Homo sapiens: one gene and its partners. The protein of the gene in region 4 interacts with the protein of the main gene of each other region in a pairwise test. Each region holds a gene or a part of one and is shown on either strand. Other genes may lie near its edges. The genes, in order: PTPN5, KCNJ9, DNAJC1 and TMEM201.

Region 1 (5,401 bases), on a different chromosome or scaffold from region 4:
AGGATGGCTCAGGATCTCAGCCCACATGCAGATTCCCTGGGCCCCTTGGGAGGAGCTACTCTGAGCCCAGGCCTTACAAGGGAAATTACTGGGCTGCAGCTGCTGTTGGGATCTGTGGAGCTAACATGGGATAAGAGTTTGGCCAACAGGGAGGGGCCTGGGTGTGACCTGAATGTCTCCTTACCCTAGCCTTGGCTTCTCTGGCACATCTGTTGGAAATGGTGACCTGCCAGCCACTGTGCCTTCCCTGGAAGCCTTCCACACCTGTCCTTGAGGCTCCCCATGGCCCAGAGCATGTGTCAGGGCCAGGGCTGAGGCTGTGTGAGAATCCTGCAGAATGTTCCCAGTTTGGCTTTACAAATTTGGACTCGCTCCATACTCCCAGTCTCCACAAGGGGCTCCAGTGAGCAGAAGGGCCAAGCTCACTGTGCTCATGCTGGGGAGGGGCACAAAGACCCAAGTACAGGAAGGAAGGCAGTGGAGGGGAGAGGCAAATCACACAGACCCAGGAGGTTAGTTTTGCTCAAAATGCTCCGTTTATTGCTCTATTCAATGACCACGAGCGAATTATAAAAAGACACCAAATGTCTCTGTCTGCCGTGGGATAAATATTTAAAGTCAGCAATAAAAACACGTGGCTCCAAGATAATACATGTTGCCAAAGAGTCATGCATGCCCTCCTGATGGGCTCTCAACACACGCATGGACATGGGAACACACGCAGAGCAACACGCAGTGAGACTTCTGGGAAGGCTTTCCCACAGTGACACAGAAAAATGTCTCACGTAGATCTGGGCTGAGTCCCCACCCAAACCTTGAGCTCCCCTCCCCTCCCCAACAGGGCCTAGATCCTCTGGGTTCTCCATGCCCCATCTGCCCCCTACCTTGCCAGTGCCTCACAGGCTGGGCACCCTCCTGAGAGCATCTGACACCCAGAGGCCACCCTGGCTGTGATGCCCACTCCAACCTAGAGAACTCTCCCTCAGCTGAAAGCTCTCTGGTGACCTTCTGGAGCTCCCCATGCCTAACTCCCCGTCATCTGCCTTTTGGGAGAAGTGCGGGTGAGGCCGAGGCAGGCAAGTCCGGTTGCTTAGGGGCTGGAGCTCATTACCCCTTCCTGGCTGAGGAGACACAGTGTCCGGTACAGAGGGCAGAGATGGATGGACAGACAGAACACATTGCAGCAGGACACAAAGTGTAGCACGGAAACATTCTGGATCAGGTATTGATGGAACCATCGTTAAAAACTGGAGCCCGGGGTCTGCGTGGTGTGGGTCAGGCCCCGGGGCCCCAGGCCTGGCCTGGCATGTCCCTTCCCGACCCTGCCCCCCACTCCCCAATATGTACAGTAGGAAGAGCAATGCTGGAGGGTAGGGGTCAGGCCAGGCTGACAGAGGACAGAGGGAGCTGACTGAAGGGGAGGAAGCGGGGAGCAGGCCCAGGACCCGAGGCAGGGCCCTGGGTGAGGGCCGAGACTCAGGCTGGGCAGTGCCCAGAGAACCTTGTAGGAGAAGCGCAGTCATTCTGGGGACTGGTGGGACAGCTGCTTTTCGTAGAGGCTCATGACGTGGTGCACAAACTGGTACTGCTCGCATGTCTGGATCATGCCGCCCCTGCCCGGCAGAGATGCACAGTGGGGGCAGGGTCGTGGAGGGATGGGCTGTGGGAGGTGCCCCAAAAGCCATGGAGTAGCAATCACTTGCCAGGCCTTGCCCCTGTGCGTCTTGGAGAGACCAACCCTTGCCAACCATTACCCTCTGCCCCTTCCTATCAGGGACACAGATGACATGTCCTACCACTTTCGGCCTCTGTCCTTTTATCCACCAGCTCTGCTTTTCTTCCCTCTTCATCTGGCCCCCCACTGTCTGGATCCTGCCCCTCTACCCAGCTGTCCTCGCTACTCCTTGTCTGCCCATCAGTCCGTGCCAGTGTTTTCCATCTGCCCCTCACCCCCCGCCCATGCACATGTGGGTCTCTCCCTCTACCCGCTCGGGGCTCTAGCTCCCTTGTGTGTCCCCACTCCCGCCCGTGGGCTGACCTGTCCTGACGGAGCTGGCACGTGGTCTTCAGGATGTCCACCACACCCTCCTGCCGCAGCTGCTGGCAGCAGATGCTGGTGGCAATGAAGCAGCCGGTCCTCCCAATCCCTGCACTGAGGGCCGAGGGGACCGGTGGGGTGAGGGGCAGGGCAGCCCAGCGGGTGGGGGGCTGCCCCGCTCCAGTGGCTGGCTGGGAGGACCCACCTGCAGTGGACGATGATGGGGGCACAGTGGGGCCCCTCCTGCTGGGCTGCCTCCTCCACCTCCCGCACCAGGTGCAGGAGTGGGGGGGCCCGGTCTGGGGTCTTCTGGTCGGGCCAGGATGTGAACCAGTAATGCTTCAGGCCTCGCTCCTCAGTCCCACTCTGTCGAGGAGACAGAGGCCCACCCCAGGTATGTGTGAACTCTTTCAGCTCACAAACCAGCCCAGAGATAGAGATGAGATGGAAGGAGGAAGAACACAGGAAGAACACTGAGAGTGGGACCCCTTCACCCTTCCATCTAGGCCACATTGCCCAGTGGCACCAGACACAGACCCAAAGCCAGCTTGGTTTTGGGGGTTGGTCAGCAGCGTTGGCATGGATCTTGCCTTTGGTCCTGCCCCAACAACTTCAGGATCATCCAAGAGGGGCCAAGAGCCCCTTCTCCAATTTATTACTATCTCCAGGGTTCCTTATCTTAACAAATGGTCCCCCAGTCATCCCTTTGTCACATAACCCAGCCCCGGGACTCTTCTTCGCCTCTTGCTGTGCCTCGCCTGCGCCTGCGTGACTCGCCTCTATCTTAGTGCTGCAATTAGTGCTGCAAGTTTTACCACCTCTTCACACTCCCCGCTTCACTGCCACCTTGACCTTTATCATTGCTCGAGTGTGGGAGATTTCTGCCTCATCCCCAACTGTCTCAGATCCACAGAGTCAAAATAGTCTGTGTACAACACACATCTGGACATGCTGCTCTCCTGCTGAAAACCTGTGGCTTTGGACTGAATGTGTGTGTCCCCTTAAGTTCACATGTTGAAACCAAATCCCAACATGGTGGTATTTGAAGGGAGGGCCTTTGCGAGGTGATGAAGTCATGAGAACGGAGCCCTCACGAATGGGATCAGTGCTCTTACAAAAGGAGCTTTCACTCCTTCTGCCACGTGAGGACATGACCCTGGAAGTGGGTCCTCACCAGGGTCACGGTGCCTTGATCTTGGACTTCCCAGTCTCCAGAACTGTGAAAAATAAACCTGTTGCTTACAAGCTACCTGGTCTATGGTATTTTGTTATAGCAGCCTGAGCAGACCACAACATCCTTCAATGTCTCTCACTGCTCTCAGAATAAGACCCACTCTCCTCAGTCCTTCACCTGGCTAGGAAGACAACTGCTACAGGGCCTGCCCTTCCAGACACACCTCCTGCCCCTGCGTACTTGTACTCAATGCTCCCACACTCCAAAAGGTTTGTAGGTAAAATCTCAGCAGCACACACAAACACATGTGCACACATACATGCACACAAGTGTTCCATCTTCCATGTCCTTACTTTTATTATTTTCTCACTGGGAATGTTCTCCTGACTTGTTTGCCCCTGGTCAACTCTTACTTATCCTTCAAGACCCCATTCAGCACCACCATGTACAGGAAGCCCTCCCTGAGCACATCAGCTGGCAGAGTGTCCTTCTTTTATACATATATATATACACACACACCTATATATATATTTATATTTTATATATATTTTATATATTATATATTTATATTATATATATTTTATATATAGGTATAATAGGATATGTATATCATATATACATACATATATGATATACATATCCTATATTCATCCAATATAACATCATATGATATACATATCCTATATTCTATATACCTATCTCTAGCTCAGTACTTACCATCTTATACAATGCTTCTCAAGGAAAGAGTCCAAGCTTTGGGAAGCTCTGTGTTCACAGTATCCAACCCAGAACCAAGCTCAGGCCAGGTGCTCGTAATGTCTTATGGACAAAAGTAAATTCCCTCAAACTCCAAGATGCCCTGGTTCTTCCCTCATCATCTCCATGGCATTGAGAAGGTGAGCAGCCCTGCCTCATCTCAGCCTGTCTTTCTGGGGAATTTCTACTCAGGAAGCCATTTTCTCAAGTCCTGAGTTACCTGGCTGTGACAGTGACCACTACTTCTGCTTTTCACTTCCTGGCCCTTCATGCCCTCCAACAAGACCTGGATCTTAGAGCTGCTTGTGGGGGCACTGCTCTTGGGGGCTGAGATGCTCTCGACACCCTACCTGGCCCCTATTCAGTGGGAGAGGGAACAGCTCAGAGGGCCAAGTCTCCGGTCTTGTGCTCAGTAACCCCTGTGGCTGTCAGCATCAATGAACTTCCTTGGCTGCTCCTGGATAGGGCATCAGCTTCCTGATGCCTGGTTCACCTCTTCCAGCCTTTGGGGTTATTACAATTACAGCCTTCCCTAAACATGGGTCTTATTTCTCACAAACAGAATCCACTAATCCCGATTTCAAAGGAACAGTCTCCTCTATTATGCTGATCCTGGAGGAAGCACAACTTCAGGGTGGGAGGATACCTTCTCCCACTCTTCTGGGCTGTTTTGTATTGCTCATATTTTGTGTGTCTTCCTTTTTCTTGCTGTTTTCTGTAACCACAGCCCCCTGTACAACCCCAAAGCAGCAAAGAGTGCCTGCCCTCTTGTGGACAGATTGGGCACTACAGGCCAGAAGCCCAGGATCCCAGGTGAAGAGATGTTTCTAAGGAGGATCTCAAAGTCATGATGAACCCTCAATTATAAGCACAGTGCTGGAGGCTGCTGAAGTCCCCTCATCCAGACAGTCCTGGCCTTGGGTACATTTGAAGCATAGCTAGAATGCATTATGAATGACAGAGTAGAGAGACAGAGAGAGCCCAACAGCATGAAATGTAACTGAGGACTGGGAAATGCAAGGGGTTTGATTCTACCTCTGGCTCCCAAGTCCATTCACCTCTCACTCATCCGTAATTATCAGAAAATCTGGGAGTGACACTGGCTTTTATGTCAGTTACAGTGGACTTGGGGGACCTGTTCTCTGTGGAGCCCCCAGTTAAGCCCCTACACTCATCCTCAGCTTCACCCAGCCCTGCCCCAGGCCTCACCTTGAGGGAGATGAGTCGCAGCCGGTAATCCTCCGTGTGAATGACTTTCTGCACAGTGATCTCAACACCGTCGTACGCCACCTGCTCCTCCGGCCAATACTCGGTGCATTTCTGCAGGGGCCCAGATCAGGCTGCCATACAATCCTGTTCCCTTCCCACAACTCTCTACACTCTCTTCAGGGCCAGCGGAGAGATACACAAGGGCAACAGGGTTGCTGCTACAG
Region 2 (6,951 bases), about 150 Mb from region 4:
CCACGGCGTGCGAGGAGAAGACGAGCGTGGCTGCGCGCTTGTTGGGCTGCGAGATCTTGACGAACATGCAGCCCACCATGAAGGCGTTCACCATGGAGCCCAGGATGGCCTGCAGCAGCAGCAGCACGATGCCCTCGGGGCACTGGTCGGTGATGACGCGGTGCCCGTAGCCGATGGTGGTCTCGGTCTCGATGGAGAAGAGGAAGGCGGCCACGAAGCCGTTGAGGTTGTTGACGCACGGCGTCCACGCGGTGTCCTCCAGGTGCTCCAGGTCGCCGCGGCCGTAGGCGATCAGCCACCAGATGGCGCCGAAGAAGAGCCAGGTGAGCGCGTAGGCCAGGACGAAGAACAACAGGCTGAGGCGCCACTGCAGGTCCACCAGCGTGGTGAACAGGTCCGTCAGGTAGCGGTATGTCTCGCGCACGTTGCCCTGCTGCACGTTGCACCGGCCATCCTTCTCCACGTAGCGCTGGCGGCCGCGGCGCCGCGGCGGCTCCTCCTGCCCGGGCGAGAAGGCCGCGTTCTCCTGCGCCATGGCGGCCGCGTCAGGGCGAGCGCTGCGGGCGCCTGGAGTGCGGCGGGGGCCCGAGCTGCTGCCACCTGCCGCGCGTCGCTGGGCGCCTAGGCGGCGTCGGGGGTCCTGGAGGGGCTTAATAAAGGTTTGCCGAATGAGTGGCCCCTCGGGAGATGGGGAGGCACGGGGCATCAGGGCCAGCACCGAGCCCTGGGGGGCCCTGGGCGAGTCCCTTCGTGTTGCCTGGCCTCTATTTCTGGGAATAACACATTCAGCCCTAACTGCCCCCCAGGCTCAGAAAGTTGTGAGGGTCAAATGGAATGATGTACCTGAACTGGATAGAACTGTGCAAGTTCCACGATGATTTTCAGGGGAAGGAGGTACCAGATATTTTGGTGCCATCACCTCCAGCTGGGGTGTGCAGCACCTCAGGGGCAGCCCCGGGGCCAAAGACCCAGGCCCAGATCCCCCTAGTGATTTCCTGAAATCAATAGACTGGGGGCTTTTTGGGGAGGGGGGCAGGCGGGTAATGGAGCCCTCCCTGCCCTAAGGACTTCCACCATCCCTTCCCCAGCTGTAGCCAGTGCAGCCACCAATGGCTCTCCTCGCAGGCTGTTTTGAAGTTCACCCCAAGACTGATACACAGTCTTTCTCATTCTTCCCTCCTTGGACCTCACTCACTCCGCTCCATTCCCTCCCCTCAACATGCTTACAAACGAGAAAGAAATGAAAGCTGTGGAAAGTCAGTGGAAACCCTCCAGTGCACAAGGGTGGAACATTAGGAAATTCCCACTAGAAATCCTCCCTGAGACCTACCCACGATCACTGCTGCTCTTGGGCCAGCCTCATTTCCCTTGGGTTTTTTCTCCTAGTGGAGACAGCCTGCAAATGGGGAGGGGAACTGGAAGATCCCAACACAGAAGCCTGGGAAAGGAAGCCCAGAGTTATAAAGAGTTAGGCTCGTATCCCTCTGGGATCCTATTCTTCATGAGAGACATGGAATCAGATCAGGTGAAGCACTAAGCACCCACATTTATTTCCCCACTCCCTCTAGTTATATTTTCCCCCAGCCTCTTACTTCCCATGGACTATCCTAACACCAGCCCCGCCCCCACCTGCCATATGCCCCAAAGCCCACATTCCAAGCGAAGCCCACCTGATTTTTCTTCACATGCTTGCCTCTGAGGAGCTCTCTGAGCTGCAATCTGCTCTGAGAGAGGTCCAGAGCCCTTCCCCAAAGCACCCAGGGTCCTCTAGGAGATATGGACCATACAGGGAAAGGTTTAGAATAGGATTTGGGACTCTTCCACCTTCCCTTCTCTTTCCTGGGAATGATCCTCTCCTCCCACTCCACGGAAACGTGGGCTGGCTAGTGGGTGGGGGATGGAGGAGTGTGCCATAGGAACCACAGATGGCCTGGATGGTTGACCAGGTCCTGGGGAGAAACTGCCTGGGTATGTGACTCTAAACCTAGCACTCCAGCATCTTATGTTCTGGGGTGAGGTCCTCTGCAGTCAGCACTCTGGAGAGGGTGTGTGTGTGTGTGTTTGTGTGTCTTGGGGTAGAGAAGGTAGGAAGAGAAATCAAAATGAAATGGCTTTGAGCTTAGGGGCACCCCCTGCATTTATTGTCCATGGAGTCAGGGGACACAGGGTCCAAGAGCCCCATGGCAATGGAAGATTAGGGTTTCCCCTGCCCCCAACAATGGGCTTCCTTTTCCTTCCCTGAAGCTCAGATGTCCTCAGGAAGAGTAAGCATTGACTGGCTCAGAGACCCCAGGTCATGCAGAAAACGACCCTGCTCCCATTATCCTAGCTTTAGTCCCAGGTGGGCTTCCAGATGTTCTCTCAGGGTCTTAGGTAATCTGACCCCCAGTCGGCTTGCCTAGACAGATCTCTCTGCCCAGGGATGGGGAAGGAACCCCGATGTCGGATCACCCCCAGAACTCTCTCACTCTCCATTGCCCCAGGGATCTAGGTAAACCTTATTTTGAATGTGTCCCACATCCTGTCTTCCTGAGTGGGGGACTGCACTTTTCTCAGGGGAAGGAAAAGTGTGAAATTGTTACCTCTATCTCAAGATCAAGGACTTGATTTCTCCATCTTCCCTCCAAGAATTTCAGTTCCTCCAACCTACTCCTCATTTCTTGTGCATGCTATGACCCCTTTGCAGAAGATTGCAATACCACTTTTCCTGGGCCCCTCTTCCTCCCTCTAGAGAGCTGGGGAGTAAGGGGGCTCATTTTTTGGAAGGAGAGACCTGGTGAAAACTCCCCCAAGAACCAGCTCCTCCCAAACCCCCACTTGCCTTGGAAATAGGGGCCCAAACCCCAAGTCCCCCGCAACTCAACTCACAGCACGTGGAGAGGAGAGTAGCCGGCAGCAGAGACCCCTGGGGGGTGGCGTCCATGCCCCTGACACCGCCCCCCCCACGGGCCCCCCGAAGGGTGGGAGCCGCAGACACCGCTGTTTCTCCTAAATGTAGCGGCAGCTCTGACTAGGACTTGCTATCTGTGTCATCCCTACTTCCCAGGCTCCCCTGCTCCTCTCTTGTTTCCACGGCAACCAGTCTGGCGACAGCTCCAGAGCATCCCCCTCCCCTCCCCAGTCCTGGGTACCACTAGGGGTTGATCCAAACCACACGCCATAGCTATTTTTAGCCAAAGTCCCTCCTCCTGGACAACTCAGAGCTTGGCTCCTCACCCCCTCATAGGAAAAAAAAAAAAAGAAGAAGAAAGAAAAACAAAGCTGGCACGCTGGCTCTTTCCTAAGAAGCTCCTTCCTGGGGGAAAATACAAGCCCTCATGTATTTGAGAATAAGGTGCTAGGTTCCCTGGGGTTTCAGAGGGCCATCTGGTAGCTGGCAGCTCACCACCTTCAACATGGGTCTCTGCGTGCAGGTGCTGCTCTCAGGTCAGGCTGACCATCATGGTCTAGTTTTGGAGAGGCCATGGATCCAGAAGGCGGTAGCTAGAAGGAAAATAGATCTACTAAAGGAAGGGAGGCAGGGTCAGGGGTTCTAATTATTGCCACTGATTTGCACTGTGTCCCATAGGAGTCACTTCACTTCCCTGAGCCACAGTTATTCCATCTGTACCAGGGTGTGGACAAGAGCAAATATCCCCTTTCTGCCTGCTTCACAGAGTCAGCAGATCAAACGAAGAAAAAACAAACAAACAAAAACCAAAAAAACCACAAAGGGCTTTGAAATGTGTTTTATTCATAGCAAAAACCCTAGAAACAACCCAAATGTCCACCAGAGAGAAAAGCCTAGGTTAGGGCTTACTAAGTATTCACTCGGCAAACTTCTGCGGAGCCCAAGTGCCAGGCAGTGTGTTAGATGGGGTGGTTACAGAATGGGTGAGTCCCTGCCCACAAGGAGCTCATTAACCCAGGAGGGATAAAGACACACAAACACACAGTGGCTGCTGCTACTAATTCACTGAGCATGGGATATGAACGAGACACATGCCTCATGTCATCCCCATGGCAACTCTATAAGACAGGTGTTATTTTTCCCAGTTATAGATGAGGAAACTGAAACAGAGACATGTTAAGTAATTTATCGAATGTCACAGAGTTGGGCAGAGACAGGAGCCAAACTCCCACATCTGTATCACCTCATGCTTTGTAAATTGTTTTAAAAGAAGACTTCTTAAAGGGTAGTTTTAGATTCAGAGCAAAACTGAGAGGAAAGTTATAGAGATTTTCCGTATGCCCCCTGTCCCCACACATCCACCAGAATGGCACATTTGTTACAAGTGATGAAGCTACATTGACATCATAATCGCCCAAAGTCCATAGCTGACATTAGGGTTCACTTTTGGTGTTGTACACTCTGTGGGTTTGGACAAATATATAATGATGTGTATCCACCATTATAGTCTCATTGCTGTAAAAGTCCTCTATGCTCTGCCTAGTCAATCCCCCTTCCCTAACCCCTGGCAACAACTGCTCTTTTTCCTGTTTCCATAATTTTCCTTTTCCAGAATGTCATGTCGTTGGAATTGTACAATATGTAGCCATTTCAAATTGGCTTCTTTCACTTAGTAATGTAAATTTAAGGTTCCTCCATGTCTTTTCATGGCTTTGTAGTTCATTTCTTTTTGGCACTGAATAATATTCCATTTCAGGATGGCCATGGTTTATTTATCTATTTACCTACTGAAGGACATCTCGGTTGCTTTCAAGATTTGGCCATGATGAATACAGCTGCTATAAACATCCATCGGCAGATTTTCATGTGGACGTAAGTTTTCATCTCCTTTGGGTAGATACCAAGGAGCATGATTCCTGGATCGTATGGTAAGAGTATGTTTAGTTTTTTAGGAAACTGCCACACTTTCTTCCAAAGTAGCTGTACCATTTTGCATTCCCATCAGCCACGAATTCCTGTTCCTGTTGCTCCACATTCCTGCCAGCATTTGGTGTTGTCAGCCTTAGCCTAGTGTGCCTCAGTAATGTAATATCTGTGGAATATTAATATCATGGGTTACTGTAAAGCCATAATAATTGCTGTGTTTAAATATGTGAATGTGTATATAACACACTGTTACATAAAAAAGCAGAACCTAAAAATATTCTTAGAAATTGATCATGACTATATTGAAATAGCTTCAGGAACACTGATAAAAATCAGAACAAAATTTGGAGAAACAGAAATATCTTATTGTTTATTTTTCCCCAGGGAAATAATGAAGAGAAGAAAGTGGTTTACAAACGCAAAGTGTTGTTGCTGTTGTTATCAGTATTATTATATCCCAGATATGGATCTATTCTTATCCAGATCCTTTAAATTTGGATCAAGAAAATATGAGCTAGAGGAGCAGGAAGACATAGAGATGGACACGGAGGGCTAGAAGCTCCTGGAATGACCTGGCAAGGTGGGAAATTCGGTACTGGATAATATAAGCTCAGGAGGCAATGACTTGGGTTCAAATCCCACCTCTGTCCACTACTAGCTGGGTGAACCTGAGCAATTATTTAACCCGTTAAACCTCAGATTCTTCATCTAAAAAAAAGAAAACCATATTATTCATCTCTTAGAGGGTTGTCATGAAGACTACATAAGGCAATGCCTGACACATTGTTAGTACTCAGTAAATGCTAGCTACTGTCTTCCTCTTCCTCCTCCTCATTGTCTTCTTCATGGTCATCATCATTGTCACTGTCATCACCATCATCTCAGGGATGTCCTGAAAGCCCCACCCTGCCTGTGCCACCTTCCTCTGTTCTGGCACCACCCTGTGAGGCCTGCAGGGGGCGCCCCCGGTATACTGCCCTCTCCTCAGCTCTCTTGCTGGTGATTCTTGTTGTTCCAAGTGGAAATATCGAGTTTTCAGCCCGAGATTGGCATCAAGAGTGCTGTTAAAGCCCCAGTCAACATCCCCGTCTCCTGGGCCTGGTCCTGTCACCCGAGCTTTGGGACTGCTAGCCTGCCCTTCTCTGTCCTGCCAAGCAGCTGCTCACATTGGTTCCACTGTGCCAGGAGCTCAGAGAGAAGAAACCAAACTCCTGGGCAAGAACACATTTGCATAGAGCTGGCCCTATTTGCTGGAGGGGGCATCACTGGCAGGGCCCTCCACAAGGCAATTTCAGCCAGCCCCTCGCCTCAGTCCAGGTGCCCCTGAACCTAGCCTGGCTGACAAGGAAGAAGACTACCACTCCCTCACCTGATTCACTCATCCTGCAGGTCCTAGACTTTACCTGTTATCTAACCTCAGTTCCTTATTTATCACTGAGCTGAACTGAGGCAGGAGAAAAAAAGTTTTCCCAGGCACCAGGACACAAAAGCATAGACAAGATTCTAGCTTTTGGCTTGGCACGGTGGCTCGAACCTATAATCCCAGCACTTTGGGAGGCTGAGGTACACGGATCGCTTGAACCCAGGAGATGGAGACCAGCCTGGGCAACATGGCGAAACCCTGTCTCTACAAAAAATACAAAATTAGATGGGTGTAGTGGTATGTGCATGTGGTCCCAGCCACCTTGGAGGTTGAGGTGGGAGGATCACCTGAGCCTGGGAGCTCAAGGCTGCAGTGAGCCGTGATTGCGCCACTGCACTCCAGCCTGGACAACAGAGTGAGACCTTGTCTCAAAAAAAAAAAAAAAAAAAAAAAAAAAAAAGGAACCGTGGTGCAAAATAGGAAAAGAGCTTAAAAAGAGCCTACTGTGGCCTGTCACTTGGAGAACAGGGAACAGGTGATACTTTTGGGAGAAAATAAAAGGTTCCCTTCCTCCAGCAGACACAGCTCTGAGCTGGGTGCAGGAATTGGCAAGCTGAATGCAGTTCAGTCCTCAACTTGCCCCATCAGCAGGTGCCTTTGTGGCAGCCCTGAGATCAGCCAAACTGGGGAGGCTTCCCTGGACAAGATCATGAGACATCTTGTGCAAAATCTGGCAAGTGGAAGAGGAAGCATGATGGGGAAGACAGCAGAC
Region 3 (7,030 bases), on a different chromosome or scaffold from region 4:
TGAAAAGTTTGAAATACCACAAGAATTACCAAAATGTTATATAGAGACACAAAGGAAGGAGATGCTTTTGGAAAAATGGTGCCCGTAAACTTGCTCAATTCAGGGCTGCCACAAACCCTCAATTTGTAAAAAAAAAAAAAAAAAAAAAAAAAACCGGCCAGGCACGGTGGCTCACACCTGTAATCCCAGCACTTTGGGAGGCCGAGGGGGGCAGATCATGAGGTCAGAAGATCAAAACCATCCTGGCTAACACGGTGAAACCCTGTCTCTACTAAAAACACAAAAAATTAGCCAGGCGTGGTGGTGGGCACCTGTAGTCCCAGCTACTTGGGAAGCTAAGGCAGGCGAATGGCATGAACCCGGGAAGCAGAGCTTGCAGTGAGCTGAGATTGCGCCACTGCACTCCAGCCTGGGTGACAGAGCGAGACTCTGTCTCAAACAAAACAAAACAATAGTATTTGTGAAGTGCAATAAAACAAAGCACTATATCGTGAGCTAACCCTGTATTTTATGTGCTTTTCTGTACATGTTTTACTCAAAACAAGTTTTATAAAGCTTATTTACCTGTTTTTTCTGTGTTCGGTTCCTGTTTTCCAACCAATCATCCATTTGTTCCTCAATTTCTTCTATGGAAGTTCCATGATCATAAGACTGAATATATGTAGTTTCTAAAGGTGTGTATACAGGAAATTCAGGTTTTGGTTTTTTAACTTTCTTCTGTTCTAAAAAATGTTTAAAAGAACCAATTATTGAGATTTTTAAAGAATAAAATTAATTTCTAACATTTTATTCATAGACCATATCCTGAAAGAAAACATCAAAATATAATTGTTCTGTTATAAATAATTGGCTATAACTTTTATTGTACATAAACCATTGCATTGTTTCTAAATAAAACTCAGAGTTGCTACTATTGTGGAGATGATCATGAGATAGCCATCATATCAATTTGCATACACCTTTGTTTTCAAAGTACTTTTCATAAAATATTTCATTTTGGCACAATAAAAAGAGCTTCAATTTAATATTGTAACCCTAACTTTACCATGTAATAAGTAAATAATACTGGGCAAATAAATTAACACTTAGAACAGTATCAACTTTCTCATCTATAAAAAAAACCTGGCTCTCACTAAATGGTATACATTTATTTTTCAATATTTTACAAAGGTGAAATATGATCTGGCAACATCAAGAGTAGTTATGAATCGATGGCCATCCATTGGGCTCTTTATTAAATCCCATTTTAGGCCTAGGAGCAGTGGTTCACGGCTCTAATCCCAGCATTTTGGGAGGCCAAGGCAGGTGCATCACTGGAGGCCAGGAGTTCGAGACCAGCCTGGGCAAAATGGCAAAACCCTTCTTCTACTAAAAATGCAAAAATTAGCTGCGTGTGGTGGTACATGCATGTAATCCCAACTACTTGGGAAGCTGAGGCATGAGACTCACTTGAGCCCAGGAGGTGGAGGGTGGGGTTAGCCAAGATCACACCACTGCATTCCAGCCTGGGTGACAGAGTGAGATTCTATCTCAAACACACACACACACACACACACACACACACACACACACACACACCATTTTAACTGGAGACTTGACATTGAGAAGCAACTCCATTCTTAATTACTATAGTCAAACTCAGCCTCATAAGAGTATTTTCACCACCCCATGTGTACGTGTGTATGTGTGTATTTGCATGTACTATACTGCCAATGTAACAAAATCAGTATATACTGGCATAGGAATAGACAAATTCCTAGAAGAGAATAGAGAATCTGTAAATACCAATGCTTGTTGACTTATTATGGGATTACATCCTGATAAACCTATCATATATTGAAAACATCCTTAATTAGAAAATGCATTTAATAAAACTAACTTCATGGCTTAGCCTAGTCTACCTTAAGTGTACTCAGAACATTTACATTAGCTTATAGTTGGGCAAAATAACATAGTGACACAGTACACTGTAGAGGATCAGTTTTAATCCTCATGATCATATGGCTAAGTGGAAGCTGCAGTTTGCTGCTGTTACCCAGCATTATGAGGGAGTATCCTACCGCATATTGCTAGTCCAGGAAAAGATTCCAAATTCAAAGTACAGTATTGTTTTTGCACTATCATAAAGTCAAAAAATTGTAAGTCAAATCATTATAAGTCTAGGATTGTCTATATTTCAATTTAGTGGGAAAACAATTTATTAAGTAATGCTTACACAACTGAGTATCCATTTAAAAGAAAACTCTTACACTGTATACACAAATAAATTCCAGATAGAGAAGAGAGTTGACTTTAAAAGCCAAAACAATAAAAATTTTGCAAAAAGAAATCTTAAAATCTACTTGTACTATTTAAAGGAAGGGGACATCTAAATAAGAATGAAAACCCAGATGCTGTTACAAAAAAGATAAAAGAGTAAACAAATCAAGAGACAAATAATAGATTTGGAAAGGATGTATCCAATTCAGAGTATAAACAGAAGATTGCTATAAACAGATTTTATAAATGGACAACCACCCAATAGAAAAATATAGGCAAAAGGTCATAAATGGGCAATCCACAATTGAGTGCCCACGTGGCTAACAAATAAGAAAAGAGGCTCATACACTCTAAAGGTTAAAGAAATACAAATTAAGTAATACCAAGATATAATTTTATACCAATCATATGGGTACAAATTTAAAATCTAATTCAGATGTACTGTTGGCAGGGAAAAGGCTACTTCTAAATTGGTGGAGGAAATGTATTATTCTATTAGAGCCTTTCTGGAAAGCAGTCTAAACATATCCATTAAAATTAACATATACAGCCTTTTCCCCAGCAATTCTCCCAGAAACAAAAGTACTCAAATATAACTGTATGTGGGTATGTATGTATTTGTGTGTGTATGACTATTTACTATTTCTTCATAGAGAGATGAAACTATTAACACAGTAAACACTATTAGGAGAAATGACTGAATAATTATTGATGATGCTTTTACAATGAGAAGTATGAAATCACCATTGAAGTAGAGCAATAGCAGAAGTAATTTGGGCTACATATAGAGAATCAGTTATTTTTTTAAAAAGCAAATAAATTCAATTGTTTGTATTTATTTCTGGGGTGTTTCATCACAACTGCAAGTGATGTCTTTTTAAATAAGCATTTATAAAGGGGCACTAAATACAGAAATGAAATACTGCTATAAGCTAATACAAAAATACACAGACCAGTGTCACTATAAATCAACCACACAAACAAGCCAACATTATAACCAGCTAACAATACAATGACAGGATCAAATCCACACATATCAATACTAACCCTGAATGTCAATGTGCTAAATGCCCCACTTAAAAGTCACAGAGTGGCAAGCTGGATAAAAAAACAAGACTCAATGGCATGCTGTCTTCAAGAGACCCATCTCACAAGTAACGATGCCCTTAGCCTCAAAATAAAGAAATGAAGGGAAAACTACCAAGCAAATGGAAAACAGAAAAAAGCAGGGGTTGCAATCCTAATTTAAAGATTAAAAAACACAAAAAAAGGGCAATACATAATGGCAAAGGGTTCAATTCAACAAGACTTAACTATCCTAAATATATATGCACCCAACACAGGAGGACCCAGATTCATAAAGCGAGTTCTTAGAGACCTAAAAAGAGACACAGACTCACCCACATTAATAGTTGAAGACTTCAACACTCCATTGACAGTATTAGACAGATCACTGAGGCAGAAAATTAACAAAGATATTCAGGACCCAAACTAAACAGTGAACCAAATGGATCTGATAGATCTCTACAGAACTTTCTACCCCCAAACAACAGAATATACATTCTTCTCCTTGCCACATGGCACATACTCTAAAATTGATCACATAATTGAACATTAAACTATCCTCAGCAAATGCAAAAGAACCAAAACCGTATTAAACACACTCTCAAACCACAGTGCAATAAAAACAGAAGACTAAGAAACTTGCTCAAAAGAATGCAATTACACGGAAATTAAATGACATACTCCTGAATGACTTTTAGATAAATCATGAAATAAAGGCAGAAATCAAGAAGTTCTTTGAAACTAATGAAAACAAAGATACAACATACCAGAATATCTGGGACACAGCTAAGGCAGTGTTAAGAGGGAAATTCATAGCGCTAAATGCCCACATCAAAAAGTCAGAAAGATCTCAAATTAACAACCTAACATCACAACGGAAAGAATTAGAGAAGCAAGAACAAATCAACTGCAAAGATAGCAGGAGACAAAACATAACCAAAATCAGAGCTGAAATGAAGGAGACAGAGACAAGAAAATCCATTCAAAAGATAAACAAATCCAAGAATGGATTTTAAAAAAAAATTTAACAAGATAGGTAAGCTACTAGCTAGGCTAATAGAGAGAAAACCCCAAAAACCACAATTAGAAATGATGAAGGGTGTCATCATTACCACTGACCCCACAGAAGTAAAAATAACCAACAGAAACTACTACAGAAACCTCTATGCACACAAACTAGAAAACCTAGAAGAGATGGATAAATTCCTGGACACATACACCCTCCTAAGACTGAACCAGAAAGAAATTGATTCCTTGAATAGACCAATAATGAGCTCCAAAATTGAATCAGTAATAAATTAGGCTCCCAACTAAAAAAAGGCCAGGACCTGATGGATTCACAGCTGAATTCTACCAGATGTACAAACAGCTGGTATCATTCCTACAGAAACAATTCCAAAAAACTGAGGAGGAAGGACTCCTCCCAAACTCATTCTATGAGGCCAGCATCATCCTGATACTAAAACCTGGCAGAGCCACAACAACAAAAAAACTTCAGTTCAACATCCTTGATTAACAGTGATGCAAAAATTACAAAATATTTGCAAACTGAATCCAGCAGCACATCAAAAAGCTAATCCACCTCAATCAAGTATTCTTCAACCCCAGGTAGCAAGGTTGGTACAACATAAGCAAATTAATAAATGTGATTCTTCACATAAACAGAACTAAAGACAAAAACTGCATGATTACCTGAATAGATACAGAAAAAGCTTTCAATAAAATTCAACACCCCTTTATGTTAAAAAAAACTCTCAATAAACTAGGTATTCCCTTTGAAAATTGGCACAAGACAAGGATGCCCTTTCTCACCACTTCTATTCAACACAGTATTGGAAGTCCTAGCTGAAGCAATTAGGCAAGAGAAAGAAATAAAGCACATTCAAATAAAAAGAGAGGAAGCCAAACTGTCCCTGTTTGCAATTGACATGATTCTATATCTAGAAAACCCCATAGTTTCGGCCCAAAGCTCCTTTAGCTGGTAAACATCTTCAGCAAAGTTTCAGGATACAAATCAATGTACAAAAATCACTAGCATTCCTATACTCCAACAACAGCCAAACCTAGAGTCAAATCAGAAAGGCAATCCTATTCACAACTGCCGCAAAAAGAATAAAATACCTAGGAATACAGCCAACCAGGGAGGTGAAAGAGTTCTATGACGAGAATTACAAAACTCAAATAAAGAAATCAGAGAAGACACAAACAAGTGGAAAAACATCCCATGCTCATGGATAGGAAGAATCAGTATCATTTAAATGGTCATATTGCTCAAAGTAATTTACAGATTCAATGCTATTCCTATCAAATTAACAACGACATTCTTCACAGAACTAGACAAAACTATTTTAAAATTCATATGAAATGAAAAAGAGCCTGAATAGCCAAGACAATCCTAAGCAAAAAAAACAAAACTGGAGGCATCACACTACCTTACTTCAAACAATACTACAGGGCTACATAACCAAAACAGCATGGTACTGGTACAAAAACAGGCACATAGACCAATGGAACAGAACAGAGAGCCCAGAAATAAGGCTGCACACCTATAACCATCTGACTTTTGACAAAGCTGATAAAAACAAGCAATAAGGAAAGGACTCCCTATTCAATAAGTGGTGCTGGAATAACTGGCTAGCCATATGCAGAAGATTGAAACTGGACCCCTTCTTTACACCATACACAAAAATCAACTAAAGATGGAGTAAATATTTAAACATAAAACCCAAAACTATAAAAAACCTGGAGGACAACACAGGCAATAGCAACCTGGATGTAGGAATGGGCCAAGATTTCATTACAAAGACACCAAAAGCAATTGAAACAAAAGCAAAAATTGACAACTGAGATTTAAACTTAAGAGCTTCTGCACAGCATAAAGAAACTATCGACAGAGTAAAAAGACAACCTACAGAATGGGAGAAAATTTTTGAAAACTCTGCATGTGACAAAGGTCTAATATCCAGGATCCATAAGGAACTTCAATAAATATACAAGAGAAAAACAAACAACCCCATTAAAAAGTGGGCAAATGACATAAACAGACACTTTTCAAAAGAAGACATCCATGCAGCCAATAAGCACATGAAAAAAAGCTCCATATCACTGATTATTAGAGTAATGCAAATCAAAACCACAATGAGATACCATCTCTATCCAGTCAGAATGACTATTACTAAAAGGTCAAAAAATAACAGATGATGCCAAGGTTATGGAGAAAAGGGAACACCTATACACTGTTGGTGGGAGTGAAAATTAGTTCAACCATTATGGAAGACAGTATGGTGATTCCTCAAAGAGCTAAAAGCAGAACTACTATTTAACCTAGCAATACCATTACTGAGTATATACTCAGAGGAGTGTAAATCATTCTACCGTAAAGACACATGCACACAGATGTTCAATGCAGCACTATTCACAATAGCAAAGACATGGAATCAACCTGAATGCCCATCAATTAGCAATTTGATAAAGAAAATATGGTACATATACATCATGGGATACTATGCAGCCATAAAATGTGGTACATATACACCATGGAATACTATGCAGCCATAAAAAGAATGAGATCATGTCTTTTGCAGGAACATGGATGGAGCTGGAGGCTGTTATCCTTAGCAAACTAAACCAAGAATAGAAAACCAAATACCATATGTTTTCACTTACAAGTGAGAGCTAAATTATGAGAACTTATGAGCACAAAGAA
Region 4 (7,030 bases):
GGTCCCCCAGTGACCTGAGAGTACCGTTGGGGGATGTGTGAAAGGAGGGTCCTAGTGGGCTGTGGGTATGAGGTGGTCAGCTGGGCCACGCAGCTCCTGGCCCCAAAGGGTGGGCTCTAGCAGGAGTGGCTGGGTCTTGCCAGTGCATCCCCACTCCTCCCAGCTCCTGCTCACACCACCCGGGGCTGCCTCAGTGCTTAAAGGCTGAATCTCCTGGCCACCTGGCACAGGGGCTGTTGTTCCCAGTTTGGTGCCACTGAAGATGGTGCTGTGGGGAGTTCCTTCGCAGTTTGACTCCCTCACTGTGATATGTGGGAACATCACTCAACCAGCAAGACCTCGTAAATCGCTCACAGGGCTGGGCATGAGGGGCTGGGCTCTGTACAGGCGCCCCAGCGAGCCTCCGCCAGCTAAAGGAGCCCAATCTGTTGGACCCTGGAGAACTCCAAAGGTGCTAACATTTCCTTTGGCGAGAGACCCCCCCCGACTGCCCTGTGCCCTCAAACCACGTCTCAGAGAGGGACTAAGAGACCAGGATCAGGCCTGGATGCTGGCTCTGGGGAGTGTCAGAGAGGGACTAAGAGGCCAGGATCAGGCCTGGATGCTGGCTCTGGGGAGTGTCAGAGAGGGACTAAGTGACCAGGATCAGGCCTGGATGCTGGCTCTGGGGAGTGCCGGAGCGGATACGCTCATCTGACACCAAGGGGAGATGTCTGGTCTTCTCCGACCCAATCCCAGCCCACATCAGGAGTGGAAGGAGAGAGACCACGTTTTAAGCAACAGTTTATTGAGACGGAAAAAATATGATCCAGCAAAGGCGAGGAGGCGAGCCGGGCCCCGAGCCAGCTGGTGTCATTGTCACTGGCTCCCAAACCTGACTCCTGTGGACGTGTCTGTACCCCAAACACAGCTGCCCACCCCAGCCCTGGCACAGAGCCCTTCTGAAAGAAAGAAAAAAGAAGAAAGACGCGGCACCTGACGCCAGCGGGTAAAAGCAGGGCCCCAGAGGCATTTATTGAAAACACAGCATCCAAAACACGACATCTAGGCCAGGCGCGATGGTTACAGTGATGAGAGGGTCACTAGACAATTATCCACAATTCTACGACATGAGACAGAGACTCAGCAACAGTCACAGACAGAAGGGTCATGTGTTCCTTCCTGGGCAGGGCTGAATGTGGCAGGTGCGGCGTGGAGGCTGCGTCCTGGCGGTTTGCTCCCAGGCAAGGGGTACGGGGGGCCGGCTTGGCCTGGGTGGGGACCTCAAGTCTGAGGGTGAGGATGGCTGAATCTACCTCGCTTATGTCTCAGGGACGGTCACCCATACCTAGGATGACCCCAGCCAGACCCTAGAAGGTCTGATGGCCATCCCAAGTCCCCCGCGAGGAGAAGAGTTCCCTGGCAGGGGTGACACATTCCCGGTCAACAAGCCACAACACAGTGGTGCCTGCACTCTCTCAGCTGTTGCCACAACACTTGGTGCTGGAATTTTCTCCACGTAGTGAAACTTTTAAGGGACACATGAATAATTTAAAAAGTCACACAAAACTCTACGAAAGGCAGGAATCCTCACTCTGCTGAGAGCTACCTCCTGAGATGTCGCTTCCGGACCCCGGCAGAGGGCAGGAGCGACATCAGCTCGGCAGGAGGATCCTGGCCAGCGCGAGGGCTGGCTCTGGTTATTATAAATAATCTAATTTAAATACGCACATACACACAGATGTCCTGCTTCTACCCAACGCCAAGAAAAGCAGACATTAGCATCACACTGTCAACACTTCCTCGAGAACCGAAGATTCGAGACGCAAGCAACAGCATGGCCAGCCGACAGGACGCTTTCCCGTCCTGGCTCCACCACGTCCTTCTCTCAGATGGGCTCTTTGTGGGCTGGGGGGTGGCGTGAGTGCACAGGCAGGCGGTTCCCTGCCCCTCAGGTAGACACCATGGGGGGCCGCTTTGGCTCACCCGCCCCAACTCCTCACTGCAGAACCAGTGGGAAGCGTGGCCCCGACCACATCTTTTCAGAGGGGTTTTCTCACCTCACGCTCCACACAGAACAACAAGCTGAGCCCAGTAACGCTGGGGCCTTGTCTGAAGCCACGCAGGTCATCGGGCACAGAGGCCACAGAAGCCCCCGAGGGTCTCCCGATGCACCTGGGTTCCTCACTTGTGAAGCTGGGTGGGATGTGAGCTGCTACCCAATCACTGGGGTGGGGCAGCCTCTAGGACCCCCAGGCGTGGCAGATTCACAGCAGTGAGGCCTGGCACCTGCCCCCCCAACCCATCCCGGCAGACCCAGGTGACGGGTGTAACCCTCATGCACCTGTGATCTGCTCTTGCCTCCCCCGGGGTTCCAACGCACAGGAGAGAGGAGCTGGCACACCCTGGCCACATCTGGAAGGTGAACTCGTGCTCAGAGTGGCGAGTGGCAGGACATGTGGGCCCTGAGGGAGTGGGCAGCCAGAGGGAACATGCCCGGTGAGGGACGGCCTCGGGCCACTCTCGACTGGGACCCCTGGATAAAGCCCCCAGGCCGGGAACTTCCTCTGCACGTGGCAGCCCCTCGACTTCCAGAGTGTGTCCTCATGAGCCACCTCATGTGATCCCCACACCCACTGAGCTGGCACCCAAGGGCTATGGAGAGGGGTCCACCTCATTTCATAGATGGCAAACTGAGGCTGAGAACAGCAGGGGCCTGGCCAGGCCCTGCTACTGAGGAGCAGGTCTGTGGGCTGCCCCCTCACCTGAGTCGGAGGACAGAGTGGCGCTGGGCCATGGTGAGCAGGCACCTGCAGAGGCTCGTGACAGGTCAGGGAGGGAAAGGATGACAACGACCTGATGTCACTGAAGGCCTGCATACCCTGGGCCCCTTACCCTTGGAAAAGCTCAGATTCCCCAAGGTCAGCACAGGCTCCTACTGCCTGTCTCAGGTGGGGTCTCGCTCCCCAAACTCATGGCGAAGGCCAGGCTGGGCCCAAGAACTGCACTCTCCATTTCCGGGGACTCGGGAGGGTCTTGGAGCAGGAGGCCAAGCAGCAGCCAGAGCTGCAGCTCGGCCTCCTTCACGGCTCCACCACCTCCTGCAGGGCCGGTCCAGCCATAAGCAGGACCAAGGGGACAGACCACAGGTGCTCCTCAGGGGTGAGGCTGGGGCTCTCTGCTGCCCCAGCCTCACTCTGCTGCACGGTCAGGGCACGCCAGGGGCCCAGCCTGTAGCCACTGTCACCACCCCTGTGCAGAGGCCAGAAGGGAAGACAGCAGGACCAGGACCCTCACCCAACAGTGTCAGAGCCAGCAAACGGCGTGGTGAGAGGGGGGTGCCTGGAGCTGCCAGTAGGAAGCCATGGGCCAGAGCCTGTGTGGGCGCTGCCCACATTCCAGTCACCAGGCCAGTGAAAGGGCCATTGGCCAGAGAGGTGGCAGCAGTGGTGAGTGGCTACAGGGCACTCGGGGATGGCTGGTGGTGCCCGAAAGGAAAAGGCAGGGCAGACTGACTCTTCGAGGCAGTGGAGGGACTGGGCCAGGACCTGGGGCTGTAGGGTGGGGGTGGGAGGGCGTGAGCAGGTGAAAAGAGGCAGGACAGAGAGGGGCCCGCTTCGGACCTGGCAAAGCCTGGGCCTGAGCATCCGTGTGTCCTCCCCCCGCAGTCATGGCTGCTTCTCTGACCTTCGGGGCCGGAACCTCCGTGGGCCCGTTGCCTTCCTTGTGGCCACAGCCGCCGTGAAGCCAACCAGGCAGCACAAAGATGTGGTGCTGAACTTGAGCGTGTCTAGCCAGCTAGGCGAGGCGGCCTGCAGGTGCTGCTCAGCCAGGTGCAGCCCCAGCAGCAGGGCCCACAGGCAGGTGCAGAAGGCATCGATCCTCCGGAGCCTGAAAGGGAAGCAGCGGGGTCACCCCAGGGGAGGACAAGACCTCCTGGGTCCACGCCTTCCTTCCTGCCTCCTCTGTCTATACCTGGCCCTGCTCAGAAGAGTCCAGAGCCAGGGGACAGTGTGGGCTCGGAATCCCCTCACACTCACACGCTACCTGGCTCTGAGCAGGTGGGTCAGTGTTTCTCCTCAGCCTGTAAGTTCTAGCCTAAAACAGGGCTAAGGAAAATTCCTCCGAGTCGGTGAGCAGGGGCGACGGGGACACAGCACTCACAGGACATGCTCCCACTCAGGGAACCCCAGAGGCCCCCACGTGAGCCCCCACAACCCAGGAGGCAGGTGGTTATCGTCATCCTGATTTGACAGAGCCCGAGGAGGAGAGAGGAGGCAACCCGGCCCAGCCCACAGCGGGTGTGCACGGGGCTGGCTCAGAGGGCGTCTGCAGCCTCACCTCACCTACGACTCCCAGCCCCTGGGACCAAGCCTTGTACCAGTGACATGGTGGAGTTCAGCCTAGGGCTGTGCACCCAATGGGGTCTCTTGGCCCCCGCCCTAGACAGTAATCCAGCACACAGTCCCCTGCCCGCCAACTCCTGGCCCTGGCCCCATGCACACCTGATGCGGCCAGCCAGCAGCATTGCCAGCAGGCAGGTGAGTAGGCCCAGTGCCACGACGCCCGTCTGGTGGCTCTGCCCAAAGGCCCAGGCCTCACACAGCTTCTCCGCCATGTGCTCGGGGAGTAGGCCCAGCAACTGCCGCCAGCCCTCGGCCCCAGGGGTGGTGCCATTGTCAGGTGTGGCTGAGCCATTGCCACCAGGTGGCAGGGCCAGGGGCACAGTGGTGCCTGGGGCGAAGTGTCCGCTGGCCCCATACAGCGCGGTGGTCAGTAGGAAGGCGCAGGCCAGGAAGGCGAGGGCACGGAGCAGGATGACCTGGACCGGGGACTTCACGGCGGAGGAGAAGTTCTGCAAAGGAGGAAGAGAGGCGGGTTAGTGAGACGGCCACAGAGCCACCCCCAGCCATCACCGGTGCCAGTCTGTGCGGGGTTCTGGCCAGACCCATGTTCTCACACATCCTGGGCTTGGTTCAAAAACTCACCACTCAGTTCCACCGGCCCGCCTCACTTCTGGGCGGGGAGGAGTGCTGCTCTACCACCCTCTCCTTTTAAAGAAGACTTTCCATATTGTAGTGACCTTATTTTGGCTCACTGCAACCTCTTCCTCCTGGGTTTAAGCGATTCTCCTGCCCCAGTCTCCGCAGCAGCTGGGATTACAGGCGCCCACCACCACACTCAGCTAATTTTGTATTTTTTTTGTAGAGATGGGGTTTTACCATGTTGGCCAGGCTGGTCTTGAACTCCTGACCACAGGTGATCCACCAGCCTCGGCCTCCCAAAGTGCTGGGATTACAGGTGTGAGCCACCGCGCCCAGCCAAGTTGAGCCCCTTCCTTTACTCTGGGGAAGCAACATGCCCATGGGGCCACCTCCCTACCCTGCTCCCCAGGCCCCTTCATGTCATCCAGGGTGGGTGTCCCGGGAGAGTGACTGGTATCACCACGCGTTTATTATGTGCGTATCTGAGCATGGGTTTTAGGGGTGGCCCTCCTGTTTCTCAGCACTTTCCTGGCACTTGCATTCGTCCTCCTAGCAGCCTTGGTGGTGCACTCCTAAGCCCTGGACCCATTTACAGCTGTGGAAACCACACTCAGGGAAGCTGAGAAACTTGCACAGGGCCACGTAGAAAGCCCACATCTGGTATGCAGTGGCTCCAGGGTTTGAGCCCAAGACCATCTGGCTAAAACTAATTTTTATCATAGTACTCAGTTGATAGAATATTCTGGTTGTTTAAAAAATCTGGTATGGTAGCAAGGAGGTTAAGTAGTAAAATCTACCCCTACAAGGAAACTCCTATCCACCCCTTTGTGTCTCTAGATGTGACCTGGGTCTGATTGATATGTGGTTTCCAGTCTGCAGCTGGGACACAGCCGTGCTACCTCTGCCCTGCCACACGTCTGCACAGCAAGGCACCAGGTGGACCCTCTCCTGGGGCCTTTGGTTCTCATTCTGTCTGCCTTGTTCCTGGTCTGAATAACTTACTACTGTACTTTTAAGGTTAACTTTTGCCACAGTTATCTGTCCATTTATGTCAGCTCCAATTAAAATCACAATAGGGGCCGGGCGCAGTGGCTCACGCCTGTAATGTCAGCACTTTGGGAGGCTGAGGCGGGCGGATCACGAGCTCAGGAGATTGAGACCACGGTGAAAACCCGTCTCTACTAAAAATACAAAAAATTAGCCAGGTGCCTGTAGTCCCAGCTACTTGGGAGGCTGAGGCAGGAGAATTGCGTGAACCCGGGAGGCGGAGCTTGCAGTGAGCCGAGATCACGCCACTGCACTCCAGTCTGGGCGACAGAGCGAGACTCCGTCTCAAAAAACAAAACAAAACAAACAAAAAAACCTCACAATAGGAATTTTTGGTGAGAACTTCACAAAATGATGGAAACAGTTATTTGGAGGCCGGGTGCGGTGGCTCAGGCCTGTAATCCCAGCACTTTGGGAGGCCAAGGCGGGTGGATCATTTGATGTCAGGAGTTCAAGAGTTCAAGACCAGCCTGAGCAACAGGGTGAAACCTCGTCTCTACTAAAATATAAATATTAGTCGGCTGTGGTGATGCGTGCCTGTAATCCCAGCTACTCAGGAGGCTGAGGCAGGAAAATTGCTTGAACCCGGGAGGAAGAGATTGCAGTGAGCCGAGATCGCGCCACTTCACTCCAGCCTGGGCGACAGTGTGAAACTGTCTCAAAAAATAAAATTTAAAAATAAATAAAAGGCTAGGCATGGTGGCTCACGCCTGTAATCCCAGCACTTTGGGAGGCCAAAGTGGGAGGATCACCTGAGGTCAGGAGTTCAAGACAAGTCTGGCCAACATGGTGAAACCCCACCTCTACAAAAATATAAAAATTAACTGGGCATGATGGCGGGTGCCTGTAATCCCAGCTACTCGGGAGGCTGAGACGGGAGAATCGCTTGAACCTGGGAGGCAAGGTTATAGTGAGCCGAGATCGTGCCACTGCACTCCAGCCTGGGTGACAGAGCAAGACTCTGTTTAAAAAAAAAAAAGGACGGGTGCAGTGGCTCACATCTGTAATCCCAGAACTTT

The links.
Region 1: the proteins of TMEM201 (region 4) and PTPN5 interact in binary tests that used the Homo sapiens proteins (3 or more experiments, as listed by UniProt).
Region 2: the proteins of TMEM201 (region 4) and KCNJ9 interact in binary tests that used the Homo sapiens proteins (3 or more experiments, as listed by UniProt).
Region 3: the proteins of TMEM201 (region 4) and DNAJC1 interact in binary tests that used the Homo sapiens proteins (3 or more experiments, as listed by UniProt).

The regions. Positions count from the first base shown.
Region 1 is NC_000011.10:18,727,415-18,732,815, forward strand, and holds the end of PTPN5 (tyrosine-protein phosphatase non-receptor type 5), read right to left. Parts: intron 5,289-5,401; coding exon 5,178-5,288; intron 2,405-5,177; coding exon 2,244-2,404; intron 2,153-2,243; coding exon 2,039-2,152; intron 1,614-2,038; coding exon 1,520-1,613; coding exon of another isoform or gene 897-1,519; 3' UTR 514-896; downstream 1-513. UniProt on the Homo sapiens protein: May regulate the activity of several effector molecules involved in synaptic plasticity and neuronal cell survival, including MAPKs, Src family kinases and NMDA receptors.
Region 2 is NC_000001.11:160,077,615-160,084,565, reverse strand, and holds the start of KCNJ9 (G protein-activated inward rectifier potassium channel 3), read right to left. Parts: upstream 3,029-6,951; 5' UTR 2,869-3,028; exon of another isoform or gene 707-2,868; coding exon of another isoform or gene 536-706; coding exon 1-535. UniProt on the Homo sapiens protein: Inward rectifier potassium channels are characterized by a greater tendency to allow potassium to flow into the cell rather than out of it.
Region 3 is NC_000010.11:21,881,718-21,888,747, forward strand, and holds part of DNAJC1 (dnaJ homolog subfamily C member 1 precursor), read right to left. Parts: intron 723-7,030; coding exon 565-722; intron 1-564. UniProt on the Homo sapiens protein: May modulate protein synthesis.
Region 4 is NC_000001.11:9,598,909-9,605,938, reverse strand, and holds part of TMEM201 (transmembrane protein 201), read right to left. Parts: intron 4,835-7,030; coding exon 4,485-4,834; intron 3,871-4,484; coding exon 3,667-3,870; coding exon of another isoform or gene 3,648-3,666; exon of another isoform or gene 990-3,647; intron 1-989. UniProt on the Homo sapiens protein: Critical regulator of angiogenesis and endothelial cell (EC) migration. Promotes the migration of endothelial cells, which is essential for angiogenesis.